Linked DNA regions of Homo sapiens: all the other regions are linked to region 1. The links come from fine-mapping of genetic effects on gene expression. A gene starts in region 1. Each other region holds a variant in brackets. All regions are shown on one strand. Distances are from middle to middle.

Region 1 (8,174 bases):
CGGCCTCACAAAGTGCTGGGATGACAGGCGTAAGCCACTGCACCTGGCTAATTTTTCTATTTTTAGTAGAGATGGGGTTTCACCATGTTATCCAGGCTGGTTTCAAACTCCTGACCACAGGTGATCTGCCTGCCTTGGCCTCACAAAGTGCTGGGATGACAGGCGTGAGCCACCGCGCCTGGCTAATTTTTGTATTTTTAGTAGAGATGGGGTTTCACCATGTTGTCCAGGCTGGTTTCAAACTCCTGACCTCAGGTGATCTGCCCGCCTTGGCCTCACAAAGTGCTGGGATGACAGGCGTGAGCCACCGCGCCCAGCTGGTTCTTATGACTCTGCTTTAAAATTCTTGGCAGATGATTCCAACATGTGACCTATCTTGGAATTTACATCCGTTACCTTACCATGTTCAGGTTGTGGCTTTCCTTGTTCTTGGTATGACAAGTGATCTCCAGATGTATCCTGGACATTTGGGTTACGATGTTTGCAGACTCCTTGTCCTACTCTATTCCACCAGGCAGTTGCTCTGTTCAGGTCCAGGGTGTAGATTGCAGCCTGTTTTTGTGGTCTGTCATTCCAACAGCAGTTTCGTCTTCAGAGCCCTGGCACTGCCCTCCTCGTCTGCTTTATTCTTCTGGCTCTCCTGGGACTGCTGCTCATTTCCCATGGGTGCTGCCTGCAGGGGTGAAAGGTACCTCCCTGGGCCGCCTGGTGTCACTGGGCTACCTTTTGCTGTGTCAGGACAGAACATGCTCGTTCTGGGTCTCTTTGTGCTAAGAGAGGAAGGGCAGATTTCAGGCTCCTCTGACACTACCTGTGCAGTGCAGACTGTCCACTCGAACCCCAGTTGCACAGCACAGGTTAATGCACCTGCAGCAGCTTTAAAATCGGCCCTGAAAGCAGACTGTGGGGTGAAGGTGGCAGCTACCCTCTAGGTCTCTGTTGGGCGTCCCCTTTCCCAGGGCTTTGGCCAGAGAGAGGAGGCTTTCCTTGGAGAATTTCTGTCTGTGCCTGTTGGCTGTTCTGGGCCACAGGCTTCCCTGGGGACTAGTGCAGGAACACATGAGAGAAAAAGAAAACCCAGGGGACCCACCACCTTGCTATTCCTCCAGTCCAGAGGTCTCCAGCCCGTCTGTCAACTCTCAAGCTCCTTTCCTCGTCGCCTGCTATGTGCAGGGTATTTTGTTGTATTTCAATGGGAGGAGCAAGGAAAAGTGAAGTCCCACCACCGTAATTCAAGCGCTTATTCTTTCTCGTCTTCAGCACTCACTGCCACAGCCTTCCCAGGGCTCCCGACCAATCCGTTCAACGGAAGCCAAAGGGGTCCTTGAAAAATGCAGACTCGATCTTGCCAATGCTCCCACCTTGAAATCCTCAGTCTGCCATGTTTTAGGACAGAGGCCCCCATGGCCTGGCCCCACCCATCTGCTCACTCCCTGCCTGCTCCCCTGTGACCAGGGTCAGCCTCCCTCCCTGTTTGCTACCTGAGGCTGCCGTAACAAAGCACACCAGGCTGGGCAGCTGAATGAAACAAATTTGATTTCTCAAGATCAGGGTACGGGCTGGCTCCTCTTGAGGTCTCTCTTCATGCTCATACTGCATTCTCCCTGTATGCACGTCTATCTCCAAAATTTCTCCTTTTATGAGGACAGCAGTCATATTGGATGAGTGCCCAACCTCATGACCTCATCTCACCTCAATCACGTCTGCAAAGACCTTGTCTCCAAACAGGATCACTTCCTGAACTATGGGGGTTAGGACTTCAGCATATGAATTTTGGGGAGACGCCATTCAGCCCGTAACACTCCCATGAGGCCTTTGCTCATGCTATTTCCTCTCTCTCCAACACTCCCCGTCTCCCACCTCCGCCCTTTCACCTGGCTATGTGACATGGTTTGGCTGTGTCCCCACCCAAATCTCATCTTGAATTGTAGCTCCCACAATTCCCACGTGTTGTGGGAAGGACCCAGTGGGAGGTAACTGAATAATGGGGGCAGGTCTTTCCTGTGCTGTTCCTATGATGGTGAATAAGTCTCACGAGATCTGACGGTTTTATAAGGGGGAGTTTCCCTGCACAGGCTCTCTCATTTTCTCTTTGCCTGCTGCCATCATGTAAGATGTGACTTGCTCCTTCCCGCCTTCGGCCATCATTGTGAGGCCTCCCCAGCCATGTGGAACTGTGAGTCCAGTAAACCTTTCCCTGTATAAGTTACCCAGTCTCGGCCATGTCTTTATTAGCAGCGTGAAAATGGACTAATACACTGTGTTTACTTATTCTTCATATTTCACCTCTGCTACCATTTGTTCAGGGAAGCCTTAAAAGTCTAGTTCAACATCCCTTGACACTCATTCTCTCAGGACCACCACGGTTAAACACATACTAATTTATCCTTCCATTAAGGGCTATCTCATCCTGCAAGACCCTAAGATCTGGGAGAGCAGGGACCATGGCCAGTTTCTACATCATTGTCATCCTGTCCCACATGTTGCAGACAGTGCCTGGTCAAACAAATGCCTGTTGGAGGAAACAATGAATGAAGGTTACTGAATATGCTACATAACAACTTTTCAGAAGTACTGATGGGCCGGGCGTGGTGGCTCACGCCTGTAATCCCAGCACTCTGGGAGGCTGAGGCGGGCGGATCACGAGGTCAGGACATCGAGACCATCCTGGCTAACACAGTGAAACCCCGTCTCTACTAAAAATACAAAAAATTAGCTGGGCGTGGTCGTGGGCACCTGCAGTCCCAGCTACTTGGGAGGCTGAGGCAGGAGAATGGCATGAACCTGGGAGGCAGAGTCTGCAGTGAGCGGAGATCGCGCCACTGCACTCCAGGCTGGGCGACAGAGCAAGATTCCATCTCAAAAAAAAAAAAAAAAGACGTACCGACAAACACCACCATTTTGCAACACGAAGATCAACAACAAAAAAGAAGGTCAAACTTGAAGTTCTGTCCTAAAATTACACACATTCTGCCTTTAGAAAACTCAGTGCATGGTCACAGATGAGAAGTGCCTGGCTAACCAGACTTGGGGACTCCTGGTTTGCAGTGAGTGCTGTCAAACTCGCGTTCTAGGCTGGGCTCACAGCAACTCCGACTCCAAGCTGTTTAGGCGCCTCTGTCTCCACTCAAGTCCACAGTCAAGGTCACTACTGTGAAACACTGTCTTGCTTTTAATTTCCAAGCTGCCTTGTTATTTCTTGGGAGTAGGCCAAGCTAACTTTAGGAGGAACTTAGTTTATAGTTTAACTTTGAAACAAAGATGATAACAGCCCTTTCCTGAAGCCAACCTCCTTCTTGCCTGGGGACCAGAATGCTTTTGTAAGACTAACACATGAGCCACAAGATTAGAAATTGTGGTTTGAGTCATGCAGCTAGAGGCCACAAGATTCCAAACCTCCCCAGTTGCTCCTTAGGATAACACCACTATCATCAACTCTAAGATTGGTGCTCAAGATATTTTTCAGGCTCTGCATTCTGATGCACCAGGTGCCACCACCCACACCACTAATCTGGCTCAACCAGTTCTGTGATCCCACCCAGGAACAGAAGACAGCAAGAGAATCAACTTTGACTCTCCATGGTTTCATCTCCAACCCGACCAATAAGCACTGCCCTCTCCCTGGCCCCCTACCTGCCTAATTATCCTTAGATGACCCATCTCAGGATTTTCAGAACCTGGTTTGAGCAATAAAGCTCCAGTGTCCTTTAGCCAGTTTCTGCATGCAGCCAGTTTCTGCATGCAGCCAGTTTCTGCATGCATTAAACTCTCTATTGCAATTCCCCTGTCTTGATAAATTGGCTCTACCTGGGCAGCGAGTAAGGCGAACCTATTGGGCGGCTACGCCTGAGATCTAATGACAGGCTGCACGTGAAGCCCAGACCAGGCACCTGTCTTACACCACAGGGGGATCCAGTCCACAGAACCAGCGTCCTTCCCTCCTGGAACGGACCTTCCCAAAGCCAGAGGGGCTCTAGGCGGCTCAAACAGGGGCTTCCCGGCTACCCTGGTCCCAGGCGGGACCACTCAGGTTCCTTCTCCAAGCCCCCTAGGCTGCAGGGCAGGCTTCCCTAGGGGCAGGCCCAGGCCTATAGCCCGGGACCCGCATCCCGGGCGAGCTGCACCCTCCCGAGACCTTCCCCATCTGTACAATGGGGACAGGACAAGGCCCAGCAGGCAGGCTGGCGGGGGTTCCGGCGACAGAGGGGGACAGCGGGCGAGCACGACAAGAGCACAGGCCCACGTGCGCACCGGCGGGGAGGAAGTAGCCCGGCGCCCCGCCCGCAGCGCGGACCGGAAGTGCTGCCGTAATCTGCGCTGAGAGTCGCGAAAGCGCTGTTCCCCTTAGTGACCGGCGACGCGGGCAAGATGGCGGCGCTGGGGGTGGCGGAGGCCGTGGCGGCCCCACACCCGGCTGAGGGGGCCGAGACGGCTGAGGCGGTGGAGCTGAGCCGCGCCCTGAGCCGCCTGCTGCCGGGGCTGGAGGCCGACAGCAAGCCGGGCCGGCGGCGCGCCTTGGAGGCCCTGCGGCGCGCGCTGGAGGAGCCAGGCCCTGCCGCCGACCCCACCGCTTTCCAGGGCCCCTGGGCGCGCCTACTGCTGCCGCGCTTGCTGCGCTGCCTGAGCGACCCCGCCGAGGGCTGCCGCGCGCTGGCAGTGCACCTGCTGGATCTGGGCCTGCGCCGCGCCGCGCGGCCCCGCGATGCCCTGCCGCGCCTGCTGCCCGCGCTCGCCGCGCGCTTGGCCGGCCCCGTGCCCGCGCGCCGCCCGCCCGAGGCCTGTGAGGAGCTGCGCCTGGCGCTTGTGCAGCTGCTGGGCCTGGCCGTGGACCTGTGCGGCGCCGCGCTCGCGCCCCACCTGGACGACGCTCTGCGCGCGCTGCGCTGCTCCCTGCTCGACCCCTTCGCCGCCGTGCGCCGCGAGAGCTGCAGCTGCGCCGCCGCCCTGGCGCAGGCCACGCCCGGTGAGCACCCCGGGCCCCGCTCCCACACGCCACCCCACACTCTCACCCCCACCTCCACCTCCGCGGCCCCTCTCACAACCCCCGCGGCTCGGCCCCGCCCCCCTCCACGCCCGCACCCCCCAACATCCCGGACCCCCCATGCGCCGCTTCCCCCACCCGCCTGCCCCAAAGCACCCCGCCCGGCCCCCTCCTCCCACCACCACTGCTTCCCCTGCCTCACGTCCCGCCACCAACGCGCCCTTCAGCTGCTCCCTTGTCCTCTACCCCCATGTACCTGTTTCCTGCGCTGCCACGTGCTCCTTGCCCCGTGACCCCTGTTCCTGCTTGGCCCTCACTCACCTCACTCCCCTGTCCCCTTGCTCCCCGCCTCCACCCTCCACGCCCCAAGCCCCGCCCCCCACCTGCCTGCTCCCTGTGCCCCCTCCACCTGCCTATCCTGTGCCATCCTCCTCCTTGCACGCCGCCCTCCCGCGACCCTCACCTCCCACCCTCCTCCCTGCCTGAGCCCCCTCCACCCCACCCGGGCCCACGAGCCAGCGCTTCTGTCCAGATACCTGGAAACCACCGCAGAAATTCCTGTTAGGCGGTTTGGGGTGGGGTGTGCCCTGATAGCTGCCCCCTTTCCTTCCCTCGGGGGCTTGCAGGACTTGCACCTGGTTGAGGGCACGCGCTTTGAGACTCTGCTCTGGTCATTTCACTTTCTGTCCCATTCATCCTACTCCCCTGCCTTTCCGCTCTGGCTTGGACCACTGTCCTAAGTGGAAGGAGGCCGCTTCTCCCCTCCACTTTATAACGTTCCCCATCTTTTTTAGAGCTCTGATCTGATCCGGTCGTTCCCTTTCCTTAGCTGGCCATTCCTGCAGGGTCTTGCCCTTTCCCTCCCCTGGCTGGGATGTGGAATGATAGCAGGCGCCTGCTTCCTGCTGGCGGGAAGGCTTTCCGAAGGAGGGAACACTGATGCTATAAATCCGTGGGCGGTAGGGAGCAGGAAAGCAGTGAGGGATCTGGCCAGCTCAGGCCGTCCCAGTGATGTCCCAGTGATGGTCTGAATGTAGTGGGAAGTGCAGGGGGTGTCAATAGAAGTGATAGACCCGAGTTCAGGTTGTTAAAAGATCACTGCAGCTGCGTGGAGAATAGATTCCAGAAGTAGAGGAAGAGCTGGACTTGGGGAAATGCCGAGATTTCCACGTTGGTTAACTTTGGATTTCACATGGTCCAGAACTCCTGTGGAGCTTGGGGAAGAACCTTGGGCTGGATGGACATGGCCATTGAGAATTCCTGGCATTTAATGTATTTCTTCTTCATCCTCAACCACTTCCCTACCCAGTCTGTACATCAGCCCCACGAGCTCCCTCCCTGGACCGTAGGTTCCACAGGACAGCACTGTGCCCATCTGTGCCCCAGCCCCAAGCGCAGCCTGCTGGGGTATGTGCTCACTGGTTGCTGTGGGGTGAGGGACTGTGCCTCTGCCTGGAGCATCCCCTCATCTCCAGCACCTCTGGCCTTCCTCTCCCCTGGGTGGGGGGCCTCACCTCTGGTCTCGGTCACACTGGGCAACGGCAGAGAGGTTGAGGCGCTCACCCAAAGTCTCACTGGAATAGCCGTTTCCCAGACGGGCCCCAAGTAGTGCAGAGCTGAGGCAAGAGGCGGCCTGGATGCCAGAGACCCTTTGGTTCTGACTTTTTTTTTTTTTTTTTTTGAGACAGGGTTTCACTCTGTCTCCCAGGCTGGAGTGCAGTGGGGCGATCTCAGCTCACTGCAACCTCCGCCTCCTGAGTTCAAGCGATTCTCCTGCCTCAGCCTCCCAAGTAGCTGGGATTACAGGCGCCTGCCACCTCTTGTTCTGACTTTCTGCGGGGACTTTACAAATAGGAAGTGCAGTGGCTTTGCCTGGAGTGGTGCTGGCCCAGCTTCCTGGAGGAGCCTGGGGTCTCGTCTCAGGTGGGGCTGGGAGTGTGGCCTCGCCTCTGTCTTCTGGGCTCGGCTTCTTTCCTCTGGCCAGTGTCCCCGTCAGGCCTCCACCTTGGCTTCAGCAGGTCCAGGCTCTCTGGTCTTCAGCCACAATGGGTTTGCACCCCCAGCCTTTCCCCGCTGGTCCTCCTAAGCCTCTGGGTTGCACAGGTGTCATCAGGGTGGGACGCTTGTCCCTGAGCCTCTTCCTGTGCCGGGCGGTACAGAGCTCTCCTTGGCAGCCTGGATTGTGTACTGTTCATGCAGCAAGGACCTGGCGTAGGAGAGGAAGGGAGGTGAGGAACTCATAGGCAGGCAGCCGTCCTCTGGAAGCCCACAGAGCTGGGCGAGGCGTGTGGGAGCAGCTCTGGTAACTGGGGGCCTCCCTGTCCCTCAGACCACTTCCACATGCAGTCGGAGTCTCTGATCGGGCCCCTGATGCAGACCATCTCCCACCAGCACTGGAAGGTCCGTGTGGCCGCCATTGAAGCCACAGGCGCAGTGATCCATTTTGGCAACGGGAAGTCCGTGGACGACGTGCTTTCCCATTTTGCTCAGCGACTGTTTGATGACGTCCCGCAGGTAACTGGTGTTTCTCCTGGACAGTCTGTTCCTCTCTCCAACACAGGCGGGCTGACGTGCTGTTTTTAACTAACTCACTTGTTCTTTTTTCAGAGTGCTGTATGCACCAAATGTCCTTTCATTATTCCTAGTCACAGGACGTTCCTGTTCACATCTTGGAAAAACTAGAAGAGAGCTGAACTGTTTTAATGTTTGATGTTATGAATTCCAAGGATGTTAGAAAGGATGACTTGTGTAGTTATTGTCTCTTAGGCACAGTGTGCACTTCAGCAGTTGCAGAAGGTTCCTTAGTGCTCCCATCCATCAAGACGCACTTTCCCGAAAAGCCACCATGGTTGGTGGACCTGGACTGGGAGAAGAGTGGAGTCGGGGTTGGTTTGTTGGGGATAATTATGTCGTTGGGCTTTGGAACCCACCAAGAGACGGGCAGGCAGGCAGGCAGGAGTCCTACAGATGGGGCTGAGTGTTGGCTTTACTGCTGGCAGAATCTGGCCTGGAGGGCATGTCTTGGATCTGAGGCCCCAGTGACTTGCTAAAATGCTACACACTGTGGCCACCGGGGAAGCTGAGTGACCTCTGATCTTTCTGTCTCTGAGTTACCTGTCATCGTAGTCAGACATGTGATCTTTTGTGTCTGGCCTCTTCACTGTGCATGGTTCCAGGTTTCAGCCTTGAAGAG
Region 2 (8,174 bases), 950 kb after region 1:
GGCGGGCGGGGGACAGGAAGCGGGGAGGGGGCGCCGGCGGGGACGCGCGGGCTGCGCGGGGACTGGAGAGGGTCCCCAGGCGCCGGCCGTTCTGCGAACGCGGGCTTGTCCAGGCACCGCCGGGGCCTGCCCGGCCCGAGCGTGGAGTCCCGAGGCTCCTGCCGGGGGTCCAGGCTGCCCCTGGGGCTCTGCCTTCGACGCGCTGTGTAGGGCCAGATTCTGGGCCTCTCTTGACTCAGTTTCCCTTCCTGTAACATGCGGACGGGGGCTTCCGCACAGGCAGGTTGTCAGGGTGAAACTGAGCCGAAGAGTGCTCCAGAACCCCCTGAAGTCCTCACAGAGGTTGGGGTGAATGAAGGAAGGAAGCGGGGCCAGGGCTGGGCAGAGGAGGCCCGGCCTGCGCCCTGCGTTCTCCGCCCCTAGGTCCCTGCCCTCCCGGATAAGGGGCGGACCGACGGGAGGACCTGAGAACGCCTTGGCTTTGCTTGAGGTGGTGGGAGTCGCGGGTAGCTTGTTCAGCCAACAGCTGTCGCCCCCACTCCCCCCACCCACCCACCCACCCCCTCCACCTTTTAGATGTGGGCGGGGAGGGCCGGGGACGGACCGCGAGGACGCCCCCTGCGCTTTCTAGGACCTCCCCTCCTTCCCCAGCCCCTGCGCGTCGCCGGGAGAGGGAAGGAGCGGGTTGCCGCGGGGAGCCGAGGAGAGCAGGGGGCTCGGGAGGCCAGGGAGAGAAGGGGAGGGCCAGAGGCTCCGAGCCGGACTCGCGGCGGAGGAAGAGGGGGTGGAAGGGAGCGCGCAGGCGGGCGAGGGAGCGAGGGAGGGAGAGAAGGAGGGAGGGAGGGAGGGAAGGGGGGCGGGAGGGGGCAGGGCGAGCTTGAATTCCCCCCCGGCCGCGCGGCGAGGGGCGGGGCCGCGCGCGCAGATCGATGGGCGAAGCTGGGGAGGAATTTCAATCCCGGGAGCGAAGTTAGAGCTTGAAGGACGGCGGCGGCTGCGGGCGCAGCCCCGGAACCGAGGCCGGGCGGGCAGGTAAGCGGCGAGCGCGGCCGGGCGCTGAACCTGGGGGACTTGGGACCCGGACCACCCCCGGGGAGCGGCGCGGCCAAGCCCCCCGCCACCTCGAACCCCGGGCGTCCCCGAGTGCGCAGCGTGCGCCCCCAGCCCCTGCTGCGCCCCCAGGCCTGGCGCGCGATCCGAGCGCAGCGGGCAAAGTTGGAGGAACTTGGCGGCGGCGGAGCGGGCGCAGGCTCAGCCCGACAAAGCCCGGGGGCCCGGGTCGGGGTCGCTGCCGCAGCCCGCACGCTGCCCCGTGCCTCCGAGAGGTCCCTTCCCCAGCGCCTCTCTCCCTTCCGTCCCCCTTCGCCGTCCGCACCCTGCCCGGCGCCCCCCAGACGCGGCCCCCTGCCCTTCCCTTCCCGGAAATTAGGGGGCTGTCCTCACCTCCTGGCCGAGTCGCTGACCCCTCCCCAGGCTCGCATCGCCCTCCCTGCTGGGCCGCCCTCCCCCCGACGCTGCGAGCCTCCTCGCTCCGCGCGGGGACCGTCCAGTCACGCACGGGGAGGGGTCACATTCCTCGGTCCCAGCCCCTGAGTCCAACCACTGGCGGGGGGGTGGGGTGGGGGGCTTCGCTCCGAACTGAACTTACTGGGTGCTTTCCACCCCTCGCCCCACCTGGAGTCCATCCTCGTCCTCGTCCCTCTGGGGGCTGGGAGGAGGCTGCCAAGCCTCCGTGCCCCAACCTGCCTCTAAAGACAAGCGCCCCCATTTCCATCCTTTGAAACCTGCAGGTCACCTGCTTGATGCTGAGGGTGGGGCGGGGGGCACTGCCTGCCGTACCGCACACCGCCCCCCCCCCCATAAAAACGACACCCTCTGAGATGAAAATCCGGCTTTTCCAGGTCTCAGCTGTGTGACCTTGGGGCAGGTGAATCTCAGAGCCTCAGTTTCCACACCTGTGAAATGGGGCTAGGATGATCATGCCTTCTGAAAAAAACGAAGGCTTAGCAGAAAGGGTCGAGGCCGGCCGAGCCAGGTGTGCACGTCCTCAAAAAGCCTCCGTGCCAGCACTTTCCCTTCCTGCACACCCGGAGTGGGGCCTCTTTGGACCCTGGCTTGGGCTGGCTGCCTCTGCCGCTCATTCCCTCGATTGGGCTAAGGGCTGTGCGGAGAGCCTGGGGACAGAAGCTGTGGAGGGACCGGGAGCCAGGAGCAGATGTAAATGGCAAATCTCCCCATATTGCCTCTCTCAGGGGCTGCCCCCTAGAGAGGCCCCCAGCCTCCAAAGAGGTCCAGCTTGCACCCAGCCTTGGGGGAAACCCCATTGGGTTGGGCATAGGTTGCTTGAAAAGCATCAACATGCTCCTCTTCTCTGCCTGGCTGGCCCCCTGGCCTCCTGCCCCCTGGGTCCCTGCCCCTGCCACCTTTTAATTGAACAAGCATTGAGAAGACTGGCTTACAGGTCCCAGCCCAGGTTTGCGCCCCACTCCACCAAAGCAGGGGGACAAACTCCAGGGGGCCGTGTGTGGGAGGGGGTCACCCCCTCACCTGGATTTGAGGGGGTTTGGAGCCCAGCCAGGACCCCAGCACTTGGGTCCCTCATTTTCCTGGGCATACGGTGGTCAGGGAGTTCTGATCCCCACCCCTAGTGGGCAGAAGACCTGGGGGTCTCCAAGTCAGAGATTGGGGGCCATGCCCCTCCCCCTGTCCTACAGCCAGCTGTGCAGCCCCCTCCTCCTCGGCCGCAGCAGGACTGCTGTGTGCGTATAATTCAGGATGATACAGCAGGCTCGGCAGGCAGCTCCCGACTCCCAGAAAAGCCAGTGGGCACCTGAACCAGAGCCACACTCCTGAGGCCTGGTAAGTCTGGGGTAAGGGTGCAGGGATGTGGTGGGCACCTGCACCCAGGACCAGAGGAGGGGAGGGAGGGCGGCGTCCCTTCCCCACCATGCCCCAGGACTGCCACTGGAAAGCACTGATTTTTCAAAGTGTCTTTGGAGGCAGGCTCCCCACACCTGGGCCAGGGAGAGGCTGCTGCTCCTCCACCTCCCTACCACGGTCCCCACCAAGAAACAGGTGTCCGGGGTCCCAGCAAGCGCCCAGGGCCAGAGCCTGGAGTAGTTGCCTGTCTCGGACCCCGGCATTTGAATATTTTCACCCTAAATGTATACTTGTAGGCTTCACCTGCTCTCCAGGAGAGAAAAATTAATGGGACTAAAATATGACCACAGTGCCTGAGATCAATGGGGTAAAATCGGAGTGGCTGCCTGGGTCCCATGTTGGTGACTTTCTCTATCTGTTTCCAACACACACGCATCAGCTCTAGATTTTGATAGAATTTTCTAAGCACTCAGGAAAGCCTCCTTCTAAGGTCCCCCTGAGGTCAGAGCCCCCACCCCAGGATCCCTTCCCCCCCGACAAGCCAATTCCCCATTTTGGTAGGGGACTGTGTTTCTCCGTGCCAGACTCAGACACCATCGCATTGGAGGAAATTTATGAGCAGAGGTGCATGGACTTGGGGTGTTCATATATCTTCACAAGAAAGAAACAGGCAGGCCCTCGAGATGCCCGGGTGGGTGGTGCATAAATACACGAGGGGGCCGGTGGCGGGGCGGGGGGCAGGATTAAAAATGCAAGTGAGTGACAGGCGAGAGATAGATAGATCTCCAGGGCTGGGTGATGAGGCCATAAATTTCCAGGCGTGAACCTGGAGCGGATGGTGGCACCGCCGCGGACATTGGATACATTTGTCATCTCTCCAGCGCCCCCCCCCGCTCTTTCCTTTTTGTTTTTGTTGTGGATTTGGTTTCTTCCAGCACAAGCTCAGGTGTCAAGTGGCCTTGGGTGGGTGTTTGTGGGGGTGGCTGGTGGTGGAGCCACTGCAGTGGACGATGGCGCCATCCATTCCAGCACCAGCTGTACAGATGGGGAGACTGAGGCCCGGATTGGGGTGGGGCCGGAGAGGGTGGTGGAGGGGTCCTATGTCTGGCGTCTGTGTCCTGTTGTGTTGGTTCAGGTCAGGGGATTCCAGCAGGGTGGGAGGCCTTGGTCGTTGGGGGCTGCTGCCTCCCTTCACCCCTGTGCACCCTGAGCCAGTCAGTGGCACCGACAGTAAACAGGAAGCAGGGTGGCAGCTATGGGCACTCGAGCCCAGCACCGTGCCCCCCCTCCCCGCCCCCTGCCCCGGATGTCCCTTTCCCAAGGCTGGTGGATTGAGACCTGGTTCTGTCCCACCTCTTCCAGCCTCCTGGGGAGGGAGGGC[G/A]GGAGGTGAGAGACCACCCTGGGAGCGCTGATGGCAGACAAGGGCCAACTGTGTGCCCTACCTGGAGCCTGGGACAAAGCCCAGAGGAGCCTGGCTGCCTTGGAGCTGGCATCCCCAGATGGAAAGACAATGGTCTCACAAATAAATGTGCCTCCTTTCCCTCGGAGATCAGCCGGTCCAGCCCCTGAAGATGGTCCAGCCGGTCCATTTTCCAGAAGGGTCCAGCATCGCCCGAGGTCACACAGCAAGTAAGCTGGAGCTGTGGCTGGACCAGGCCTCCACACCTGTAGAGCTGTCCTGGGGCAGCTGGGGTCTTGGTCTTGGAGAAGAGCTGGAACCCAGGCTGAGGCAGGAGGGGGTCCAGCAGGGCTTGAGGGACCTTCAGAGGGGAGGCAGAGAGGACGACTACTCCGCTCCCTGCTCCAGGCCACGGGGGTACACAGGAGCTGGTGGGGAAACTGAGTCAGGCGGCGAGGACCACTGCTCTGCTCCCTGCTCCGGGCCGTGAGGGGTGCACAGGAGCCAGTGGGGAAACTGAGTCAGGCAGAGAGGACCACTCCTCTGCTCCCTGCTCTGGGCCATGAGGGGTGCCCAGGAGCCGGTGGGGAAACTGAGGCAGAGAGGACCACTCCTCCGCTCCCTGCTCCGGGCCATGGGGGTGCACAGGAGCCAGTGGGGAAACTGAGCCATGGAGGCTGGTCCACACAGCTCTTCCCCACCCACATGGCTAGGACTCCTGGGGCTGTTCTGTGGTGGGAGACCCTGGAGTCTCAGGATCTCGGTTACTCAGCCCCGGTTGCCTCCCTTCTGCCCAGCAGTTAGTTCCTCAGGACTCACGGCTTCCAGGCTCCCCTCGCCTGTGAGCCGGACCCAAGCTCCTCTTTGGGGCTGAGGAGGAGGGGTCTAGCTGGCCCCTATAGGGTGGGCAGAGTTTAGATAACCCCACAGGAAGAGGCAGGCATCCAGGCAGGAGAGGCAGCGGAAGGGAAGGTGTGAGGCCCCCAGAGCAGTGAGGGGGGTGGGGAGAGGGGCCATGACAGTGGACGGTGACCCCCCCGCCCTCGACGTCTGCCCTAATGTCTTCCTCTGCCAGTTCCAGGACAGACTCGGGCAGCCACAGTGGGAGAGACTGGTGGAAGGGACAGGGCCTTGCCTCCCTGTGTGTTGTGCCCAGTGCCCCCACATGAGGCTGGGGTATATTGGAAAACTGCACTCTGGGCTTCCGAGGGAGGGATGGGGACAGAGGAGGCACAGCCGGGCGGGAAACATCCTTCGGCCCGGGCCAGCCCAGCCATCACCAGGTCCACTGTGTTTGCTAGAGCCCCCAATTCAATCTCTGAATTTTAAAGATAGGGACACTGAGGCGCAGACAGGGCAGTGGCCGCAAGCCACTGAGGCTTGCAGGCAGTGGTATCTGGGCTCAGCCCTGCTCCCATGCTGGGCTCCCCACACCTCATATCCGGGCTCAGCTGGGAGAGTGCCCTGGCCTTACCGACGGGGACCCGGCAGCCCACGGCGTGGAGGTGAACCAGCTTGTCTGGGAAGCCACATTCCACCCCTGTGCACCCCCAGGCCCTCTGTGGCCCACTACCCCCTCTAGGACCCCACCCCACAGAAGCGCATCTCTCTGCTGTCCGCCCCACTCCAGTGGTAACTTCTGTCAGAGGGCTTGTCACAGAGTGCTGACCGCGCTGAGAGCTTCTCACCAGCGCTGGACATGTGGCCAGGTGGCGGCCGAGGGCTCGGGGGCGGGGGTCTGTCCACGTGACAGGTGCACACCCCGGCATTGCTGCCCTGACATTTGGAGGCTGTTGGGTTGGGTCCAGGCGGAATCCTTCCTGGGATGGAAACCCCGGGAGATGATTGACAGCCTGGAGGCTCCCCCGTGTTTACCGACAGATCCGAGTCTTATTTTCAGCAGGATCAAACTCAGGCACCTCTTAGTCATTAACTCTCTCTAGTTTAATAAACACAGATACAAACACAGCCAGCCATGTGCCCGCCCCACATGGATGAGAATCCCGCCCGGCTTCCTGGGGCCGAGGAGCGGGGTCTGGAAATGGGGGGGCCGTCGGGGGGCTCCCCAGACCCTCGGCCGGTGCGCAGGAGGCCCTGCAGGGAGAGGGCTTTGCAGAGCACACAGTGAGGCGTCGCTGGCCCGGAGGGACGAGTCAAGGACAGCTGTGTGCCTTCACAGTCCCGCGCTGTCGAGACACAGCCCGAAGTAGTGGCTGGGAAGGTGTCCCGGAGATACCCACAGCACAGCTGCCCCGCCAGGGCTGCATGAAGGGTTGGCCAGCGCTTGGCTCCCTCACTGCCATCTCGACCTCCACGGCCTCCCTAGAAGCCCAAGGGGCTGGGGACCCTCAGGATGTGTCTCCTGGGCGTGGACTCTGGGCTGTGCTGTGGCTCCTGCCTGGCCCCCGCACTGGTCAGAGTGCTGACCGAGGGAGGCTGCCTGGGAGGGGGACTGGGATGCTTCCCGGACATGTCTGGAAAGGTGGCAGCTGGTTCCTAGACCAGATCCCAAGGGAGATGGCATTAGCCAAGTGCCTACCTCTGCCTAAAGGGTGCTGGTAGTGGCTCCAGGGCACCCTGGAGAGGAACCCCCAGTCTGTTGTCTCCCTGCCTGAGGGGAGCCTGCACTGAGGCCTCTGCCCTCCTCACTGACAGACTGCCCCTGTGTCTGTTTGCCCCGTGGAAGCTGTGGAAGGGCCCGGCCTCTGCCCTCTTCACTGAGGGACCACCCCTGCATCTATCTGTCCTGTGGAATGGTGGAAGGGCTTGGCTGCAGATCATGGGGTGGCCCGGGCTGGGGAGCCTCTGGTGTTCGGCGTGACCTGAGGTGGGTCCCTTCCCTTCCCGGAGCCTCGGCCTCTCCTCCGTCATGTGAGGACGGGGGTGGATGGATGGCTGTGGGGAGTGTAAATGGCTGACACCAGTTCTGGAAAGGGCAGAGCCGCCACTGCTGGCAGAATCCCCCGCCCTTCTGACTTGCCCTGCATGGCCCTCAGACCTGCAGCCCTGGAACCTGGATGGGGCGCAGGTTCGGTCCCTGCGTCCCTCTGTGCCCTGCTGTGCAAAGAGACAGGGAAGGAGGATGCTGGGGAAGGGAGAGCAGGTGTAATGGCCCCGCAGCCGAGACACGCTTCGTGTGGGTGAAGGGCAAGGCCAGTGCAGCTGGCCGTGGGGGCTGAGAGGTGAGCGGGAGAGGCCCCAGGGTCCGGGCTGCTCCTGTGTCGGAGCTCTTGGGAAGAGTTGGTTGGTACTCGGATTGCTTCGGGAAGTCTCTGGGGAGTTTGCAGCAGCTGAGAGACAAGGCTGGCTTTAAAGCATCCCTCTGATGTCGACGGAGAAAGGGTTTTTAAGGGCACACGAGGGAATGAGCCACCCAGGGGACTGCCGACGTCTGAAAGCCATGAGGGTAGCCCGTACTGGGTGCCGACGCTGGCAGCGGAGAGACAGAGAGGATGTAACTTCTGTTTTGACAGTGCTTAGAAATTGGAGCTACATTCCTATAGAGAAAAATATTCTGTAAGGCAAAACCCATTTTCCTATTTATATTCATTAGGAAATGAGGGAGGCCGTCCTGTGGAGAGGAAGGTTGTGCGAAGCAAGTCCTGCTTCCCTTTGACAGCCATTAGCATTTCAGAGCTGTGTTCTTGGGGAGATGAACCCCCCAGAATGGATTGGTATGAAACAGTGGGGTCATCTTGGCACAGAACCCCTCAGGGTGCCCACAGAAGTGGGGCTCAGGGCCCATTCCTCAGGTATCCGGCACCCCGGCTTCCTCCAGGAGACGGGATTCTCAGATCTTCATTTGCGTGTGGCTCTGGGTGCAGATGGGTGTCCAAGTGAATATGGGAGCAGGCACGCATGTTCACGTGTGTGCGTGTAGATTACCACTTGTGTG
Region 3 (8,174 bases), 66 kb after region 1:
TGCACCAAGCAGTTCCCATCCAGCTCCCATCCAGCACGAGGCTCCGTCGTCTGTCTCTGTCACAAGACCCAGAAATGAATGGCAGGGAGCTTGCCCGAGAGGACACACGTGTGAGGGGCCCCTCGACCCCTCGGACGCAAGTGCACCAACCCCTGGGCCGTCCCTCGCCCTGCATGCTGGGGCCACAGCATGGGAAGAGACATCAGCGCTGCCGCTCCGTCTCTACACATCTGTAAAGGGAGCTCCCAGGGACCTGGCACGTCCACAGGTGCGTGTGTTCAGAGAAAGACGGAAACCCAGCCTACAAGGGTTCACAGACACCCAAGAGGCATTACGTCCCTCTCCACTTAATTCTTTGAAATGTTGATAGGCCGGGTGTGGTGGTTCATGCCTGTAAAATCCAGCACTTTGGGATGCTGAGTGGAGAGGATCACTTGAGCCCAGGAGTTCGAGACCAGCCTGGGGAACAGAGGGAGACCCCATCTCTACCAAAAATTTTTAAAATGAGCCGGGCGTGTTGGTGGCCCATGCCTGTAATCCCAGCACTTTGGGAGGCCAAGGCGGGCAGATCTCTTGAGGCCAGGAATTCAAGACCAGCCTGGACAGCATTGGGAAACCCCGTCTCTACAAAAAAATTTTAAAAATGAGTGGGCATGGTGGCGCACACCTGCAGTCTGAGCTACTCAGGAGTCTGAGATGGAAGAATCACCCGAGCCTGAGAAATCGAAGCTGCAGTTACCCAAGATTGCACTCACTTTTTTTAAACAAGTGAGACCTTGTTTAAAAAAAAAATTTTGTAAATCATAAATGAGTGCATTAATACAACATGTACTTTTTTTGTCTTGCCTCTTTCACTCATCAGTTTTGATGTCCATCTATGTTGGGGTGTCCATCAATAGTTCATTCCTTTTTGCTGCTGCGTAATATTCCATTCTATAGATAAGCCACAGTGTGTTCACCCACTCAGCTTTTGACGTGTGTTTGAGGTCTTTCCAGGTTTTGGCTATTACAAATAAAGCTTCTTCCAACATTTGTGTACATGTCTTTGTATGGATAGGTACTTTCATTTCTCTTGGATAAACATCTAGTAGAATGGCAGTCATGGTGGATGTATACTAAATTTTTAAGAAACTACCATTCTATTTTCCAGAGTGGCGGGACCATTTCCACCAGCCCTGTGCAAGAATTCCAGTTCCTCCCATATTTGCCAACACTAGCTAATCAGTTTTTAATTTTAGCCATTTTAATAGGTACATAGTTGTATCTCATTATGGTTTTAGTTTGCATTTCCCTAATGTCTAATGAGGCTGAGCATCTTTTCATATGCTTATTTGCCATCTGTGTATCTTTTTTGGTGAAGAGTCTTTTTAAATATTGACATGGTTTGGCTGAGTGTCCCCACCCAAATCTCATGTTGAACTATAATTCCCAGTGTTGAGGGAAGGACCTGGTGGGAGGTGATTGGATCATGGGGATGGATTTCTCCCTTGCTGTTCTCATGATAGTGAGTTCTTATGAGATCTGGTTGTTTAAAAGTGTGCCTTCTCTCTCCCGTCGCCATGTGAAGATGTGCCTGGTTCCCCTTCACCTTCTGCCATGATTGGAAGTTTCCTGAGGCCTCCCCACCCATGGAGAACTGTGAGTCAATTAAACCTCTTTTCTTCATAAACAAGCCAGTCTCAGGTAGTTCTTTATGGCAATGTGAGAACGGACTAATACAAATATCTTGCCCATTTAGACAAAACTGGGTTGTGTTCTTCCTGAATATTGAGAATTCTTCATATATTCTAGGTACAAGTCCTTTATCATATATCTATGATTTGCAAATATTTTCTCTCATTCCATAGCTTGTCTTTTCATTATTTTAACAATGTCGTTTGAAGAAGATAAGCTTTTTATTTTGAATGAAGTCTAATTTATCAATTTCTTTTTTAATGGATTGTGCTTTTGGTGTTGTATCTAGGAAATCTTTGCCTAACCCAAGGACACAAAGTCTTCAGTTCCTGAAGCTCAAAAAGCTGTTGTTGCCAGGCACAGTGGCTCACGCCTGTAATCCCAGCACTTTGGGAGGCCAAGGTGGGAGGGTCGCTTGAGCCCAGCTTGGGAATCATAAGGAGACCCTGTCTCTCCAGAAAAAAAAAAAAAAAAAACTAACCTGGCATGTTGGTGCATACCTGTAATTCCAGCTACTCGGGAGGCAGAGGCGGGAGGATCTCCTGGGCCTAGGATGTTGAGGCTGTAGTGAGCTACGATTGCACCACTGCACTCCAACCTGGGCAATCGTGCGAGACCCCATCTCAAACAAACAAACAAAAAGCTCTTGTCATAGGCCAGGCACGGTTGCTTATGCCTGTAATCCCAGCACTTTGGGAAGCCAAAGGCTGGTGGATCACTTGAGGTCAGGAGTTCAAGACCAGCCTGGCCAAGATAGTGAAACCTCATCTATACTGAAAATACAAAAATTAGCCGGGGCTGGTGGTGGGCGCTTGTATCAAAGCTACTCAGTAAGCTGAGGTGAGAGAATTGCTTGAACCCAGGAGACGGACGTTACAGTGAGCTGAGATCACGCCACTGCACTCCAGCCTGGGTGACAGAGTGAGACTCTGTCTCAAAAAAATAAATAAAAACAACTCATCTATTTGTTCTTACCTACACTGTGATTCAAAGGCAATTTCTACTTCCCTTTGTAATCCCCTTTCTGTGACCTAAATGAAGAGCTGAGGTTACTGGAGGGTGGGAGCTGGTTGGTTGAAGAAAAAACACTCACCTTTTTGTAGCCAAAGACAGCCTTCTATATCAGTATGGGATGATCTCCAAAACACATTGTTAATTTTAAAAAACAAGGAGCACAGGCTGGGTGCGGTGGTTCACGCCTGAAATCCCAGCACTTTGTGAGGCCGAGGCGGGCAGATCACGAGGTCAGCAGTTCGAGACCAGCCTGGCCAACATAGTGAAACCCCGTCTCTACTAAAACTACAAAAATTAGCTGGGTGTGGTGGCGCATACCTGTAATCCCAGCTACTCGGGAGGCTGAGGCAGGAGAATTGCTTGAACCTGGGAGGTGGAGGTTGTGGTGAGCCGAGATCTTGCCACTGCACTCCAGCCTGGGCGACAAAGTGAGACTCCGTCTGAAGAAAAAAAAAAAAGGGAGCTGCTTCTTTTGCTTAGGCATAAAAAATTTCTGGAGGGGACAAAAGAAACCAGTTGAACAGTGAGGCCTCTGGAGAAGGGACCTGAGTGCCCCAGGGACTGGAGTGAGAGTCCAGTCTTTACCTCTTGGTACCATGGAATTTACTCCTCTCGGTTCCATGGAATTTACTCCTCTCGGTACCATGGAATTTACTTTTAGTGCACGTATTTATTACCCAGTCAAAAACAACTCTGCTGAGACTAACCTGTAATCGAAGCCTCACTGACACCTGATGCTGTTCTCGGCTCACAAGTCAGCACACTTGTTTCTTCTGTATCACGAACCCCTGTCCCAGGGAAGGGTGTTCAGGATGTCAAAGCAAAAGCTTTATCAGAAAGTTGTCTTGGGCAGGGTGTGGTGGCCCACGGCTGTAATCGCAACACTTTGGGAGGCTGAGGCAGGAGGATTGCTTGAACCTGAAAGTGGAGGCTGCAGTGGGTCTTGATGGCATCATGGCACTCCAGCCTGGGTGACAGAACAAGACCCCATCTCAAAGCAAACAAACAAAACTTGTCTTATTGAGAAATGAAAATGCAGAGACTTGTAGCCAAGTGCTCATAGCAGCTTTATTCTAGCCTCAAATTGGAAAAAACCCAAATGTCCATCAACAGTCCATCTGCAGTATAAACAAACTACAGTCTATCCAGACAACAGAATACGATTCTGTAGTCGAACGACAGGGCACACTGCAACGGAGACAGCTCCCACAGACACCAGGCCAGTGAGGAAAGACTGTATCTCATATAATTTATATGGAACTCGAGAACAGGCAAAGCTGTTCTATAGTCCTTTCTTTTTTCCTCTGAGCCAGGGTCTCACTCTGTCACCCAGGCTGGAGCACAAGGGTGCCCTCACAGCTCACTGCAGCCCCAGCCTCCCAAGCTCAAGCGATCCTCCCGCCTCAGCCTCCGGAGTAACTGGGACTACAGATGCACACCACCACCCCCAGCTAATTTTTTATTTTTAGTAGAGACGAGTTCTCACTATGTTGCCCAGACTGGTCTCGAACTCTCCGGCTGAAACGAACCTCCTAACTCAGCCTCCCAAAGTGCTGGGAGGACAGGCATGAGCCGCTGTGCCCAGCCTACTCCTTTTTAAATCACCGAATCAATGATGACTATATGGAGGCTCTTTATGTTTATTATATTATTCTCTCTACTTGTGTATGTGTGAATTCTGCATGAGTTTTTATAATGAAAAAATCACACTTCAAAAACAGTCACCTGGCTAAGCATGGAAGACACAGGCTCAGCCTGAGTGCTCTTGGAGGCTCTTCTCCAGGTGGGAGCAGGCCGGGCGGTGTCCCTTTTACTGAGCACTTGATTTTCCACTACCAGGTGTCTCCTCACTAGCCTGAGAACTTAGTTAAATTTTCTTTAAAGATAAATCTTTCATCCTAGCCAGAGCAATCAGGCAAGAGAAAGAAATAAAAGGCATCTAAATTGGAAAATAAGTCAAATTATCCCCATTTGCTGATGATATGATCATATATCTAGAAAACCTTCCAAAAAGCTCTTAGATGGGATGAATGCAGTTAAGCTGCAGAATACAAAATCAACATACACAGATCAGTAGTATTTCTGTCCGTTAATAATGATCTAGTTGACAAAGAAATCAAGGCAATCACACTTATAATAGCTACAAAAAAATAAAACACCAGCCGGGCGCAGTGGCTCACGCCTGTAATCCCAGCACTTTGGGAGGCCGAGGCGGGCAGATCACAAGGTCAGGAGATAGAGACCATCCTGGCTAACACGGTGAAACCCCGTCTCTACTAAAAATACAAAAAAAAAATTAGCCGGGCGTGGTGGCGGGCGCCTGTAGTCCCAGCTACTTGGGAGGCTGAGGCAGGAGAATGGCGTGAACCCGGGAGGCGGAGCTTGCAGTGAG[T/C]GGAGATCGTGCCACTGCACTCCAGCCTGGGTGACAGAGCCAGACTCCGTCTCAAAAAAAAGAACGAGATCCTGACTTTTGCAGCAACATAGATGGAACTGGAGGCCATGATCTTAGTGAAACAAGCCAGGTGCAGAAAGTCAAATACCACATATTTTGACTCATGAGTGGGTGCTAGAAAATGTGAACACGTGGACATAGAGAATGATAGACAGTGGAGACTCAGAAGGGTGAAGGGAGAAAAGGGAGTGGATGATGTAAAATGACTTAGTGGGTACAACATATGATATTCGGGCGATGGATCCCCAACAGCCCTGACTTGACCAGTATCCAGAATGCAATCTATGCATGTAACGAAACTGCACTGTACCCCACGTTCTTACAGCGATAGAATATTTCTCCTGACTTCTCCCCATTTTCCAGAATTCTATTTTTTTTCTTTTTTTTTTTTGAGACAGAGTCTCGCTCTGTCACCCAAGCTGGAGTGCAGTGGTGCGATCTCGGCTCACCGCTACCTCCACCTCCTGGGTTCGAGCAATTCTCCTGCCTCAGCCTCCTGAGTAGCTGGGATTACAGGCGCATGCCACCACACCTGGCTAATTTTTGTATTTTTTGTTTGTTTGTTTAGTAGAGATGGAGTTTCACCATGTTGGTCAGGCTGGTCTCGAACTCCTGACCTCGTGATCCACCCGCCTTGGCCTCCCAACGTGCTGGGATTACAGGCATGAGCCACCGTGCCCAGCCCAGAATTCTATAAATAGCATTGTCCATCTGATGTCAGAGAGAGAAACAATCCCTGGATGTTACTCAGGCTGGTGGGCTATGAATACCATGGTTTGTTGTTGTTTTGAGACGGAGTCTCGCTCTGTCACCCAGGCTGGAGGGCAGTGCTGCAATCTCAGCTCACTGCAACCTCTCCCTCCTGGGTTCAAGTGATTCTCCTGCCTCAGCCTCCCAAGTAGCTAGGGCTACAGGCGCCCACCACCATGCCCAAATGATTTTTGTATTTTTAGTAGAGATGGGGTTTCACCACATTGGCCAGGCTGGTCTCAAACTCCTGACCTCAAATGATTCACCCACCTGGGCCTCCCAAAATGCTGGCATTACAGGCGTGAGCCACCGCGCCCAGCCTTTTAAAAGCATTTTAAGAGGTCTCAGGCAGTGCCTTTCACAGAGAGGAGGCTGCAGCCTCCACGCAGGCCTCACCCTCTCCGCCTTCTTCCTTTGACCTCGGCATGTCCTTGATGTTGTACCCAAGGGTCTGTGCCGCTCTCCTGTGACTCTTCTTACAAGCAAATGATGGCTCCAGGAGCTGGCCTGGACCCTGAGGCCTAGAACCTGCCCCAAGGGGAAAAGCACCTGCTCATTTGTGTTTAGGCATTTACTCAACGCTTCTCTTAATGTCTTGGAAAGTGTCACTTAGGAGACAAGGCAGTGCTCACTCTTGGCTGACAACAAGGTAACTGTAGACAGAAGAATCTATTATTAGGCGTCTCCATGTTCTCTTCCTAGCTCATTGCTGGCACTGTCATCCTTACGTTAGTTTCCTTATATTTTGTTTTCTTTTCTTTTTTCTTTTCCTTTTTTTTTTTTTTCTGGAGACGAGAGTCTTGCTCTGTTGCCCAGTCTGCAGTGCAGGGATCCGGGTCCAGGGGATGTCTCTGAGCCCCCAATCCTTTACGGGGCCTTTTCCTGGGGTCCCTGTGGGCTCCATCCCGGGATGCAGGACAGAGATGTGGGATGCGGAAGGGTTCCCCGCAGGGATCCAGGTCCGGGGGCAGGAGGAGCCCAGAGGGTGGCACCATCACGCAAAGGCCTCCAGAGGCGTGGCCCGGGACAAGCACAGCGCCAGCCGCCTGCGCTGCCAGGGCAGGGTCCACACCCACAGACTGTAACCTGGACCCGGGCAGGGCGGGGTCCACACCCACAGACTGTAACCTGGACCCAGGTGGGGTCCACACCCGCGGACTGTAACCTGGACCTGGGCAGGGCAGGGTCCACACCCGCGGACTGTAACCTGGACCCGGGCAGGGCGGGGTCCACACCCTTGGACTGTAACCTGGACCCGGGCAGGGCGGGGTCCGCACCCGCGGACTGTAACCTGGACCCGGGCAGGGCGGGGTCCGCACCCGCGGACTCTAACCTGGACCCAGGCAGGGCAGGGTCCATCCACACCCACAGAATCTAACCTGGACTGGGGCAGGGCCTAAACCCAGGGACTCTAACCTGGACCCGGGCAGGGGAAGGGTCCACACCCGCAGACTCTAACCTGGACCAGAGCCTGGGAGGGTCCACACCCGCAGAATCTAACCTGGACCTGGGCAGGGCAGGGTCCACACCCACAGAGTCTGTCTAATCTGCAGAGGACAAGGGTGGGGTCTCCCACAGAGCCAGCCTGAGGGGTGGGTGCACCTGAGGGGTGGGCGCACCTGAGGGGTGGGCTCGTCGCCCTCTGCCTCATGCTGGCAGGACCCGAGAGGCCTGGGAGTGCTGGGAACTGAGAAACAGTCATCACCAATTAAAAGTCCCGCTGCCTTTTATTAACACCATGCGTCACCCTTCTGTACAATATCAGTGAGAAAACACTCGCCTAAAAAAAACCTTTTGTTGCTCTAAATTCTAAGCTGAACAGTTGCTGCAATCGCCAGTGAGTTTTAATACAGCTTCCGATTAGCACATTTTAATTACCCTTTATAAACATGCTCTAAGTGAAAGTCAATTCAGACAATGTCCAGTGAGGCAGTGGGATCCCATCACACACGGACTCACAGCGCACACTACTCCAATATTTAGGTAAATTCATGGCCGGGCGCGGTGGCTCACGCCTGTAATCCCAGCACTTTGGGAGGCCGAGGCGGGTGGATCACGAGGTCAAGAGATCGAGACCATCCTGACCTACATGGTGAAACCCCATCTCTACTAAAAATAGAAAAAAATTAGCTGGGCGTGGTGGCGGGCACCTGTAGTCCCAGCTACTCGGGAGGCTGAGGCAGGAGAATCGCTTGAACCCAGGAGGTGGAGGTTGCAGTGAGCCGAGATCGCGCCACTGCACTGCAGCCTGGGTGACAGAGTGAGACTCTGTCTCCGAAAAAAA

Alleles and levels. Alleles are on the strand shown, and positions count from the first base shown. SD is a standard deviation of normalised expression in the study named. Not every link is listed here.
For the expression in liver of the gene that starts at base 4,347 in region 1, T is the high allele of the variant in region 3 and C is the other (moderate effect, 0.57 SD a copy in GTEx).

The links.
Region 2: its variant is fine-mapped to the expression of DNAAF5 in esophagus muscle (GTEx, PIP 0.98).
Region 3: its variant is fine-mapped to the expression of DNAAF5 in liver (GTEx, PIP 0.98). The same link has a PIP of 0.9 or more in breast.

The regions. Positions count from the first base shown.
Region 1 is chr7:722,353-730,526 of GRCh38, forward strand. It overlaps DNAAF5 (dynein axonemal assembly factor 5), which reads left to right and starts at 4,347. Exons shown (of 13, transcript NM_017802.4): 1 at 4,347-4,963; 2 at 7,311-7,495. The coding sequence starts at 4,369. It overlaps PRKAR1B (protein kinase cAMP-dependent type I regulatory subunit beta), which reads right to left and starts at 4,929. Exons shown (of 11, transcript NM_001164760.2): 1 at 4,858-4,929. RefSeq lists silencers at 4,420-4,619, 4,870-4,919, 4,980-5,089, 5,130-5,209.
Region 2 is chr7:1,669,323-1,677,496 of GRCh38, forward strand. It overlaps ELFN1 (extracellular leucine rich repeat and fibronectin type III domain containing 1), which reads left to right and starts at 955. Exons shown (of 4, transcript NM_001128636.4): 1 at 955-1,032. RefSeq lists enhancers at 1-386, 387-1,093, 1,094-1,800, 1,801-2,507. The variant G/A (reference allele first, on the strand shown) is at 4,262.
Region 3 is chr7:787,886-796,059 of GRCh38, forward strand. LOC124901567 (a long non-coding RNA gene) reads left to right here and starts at 1,568. Exons shown (of 2, transcript XR_007060175.1): 1 at 1,568-1,638. The variant T/C (reference allele first, on the strand shown) is at 5,081.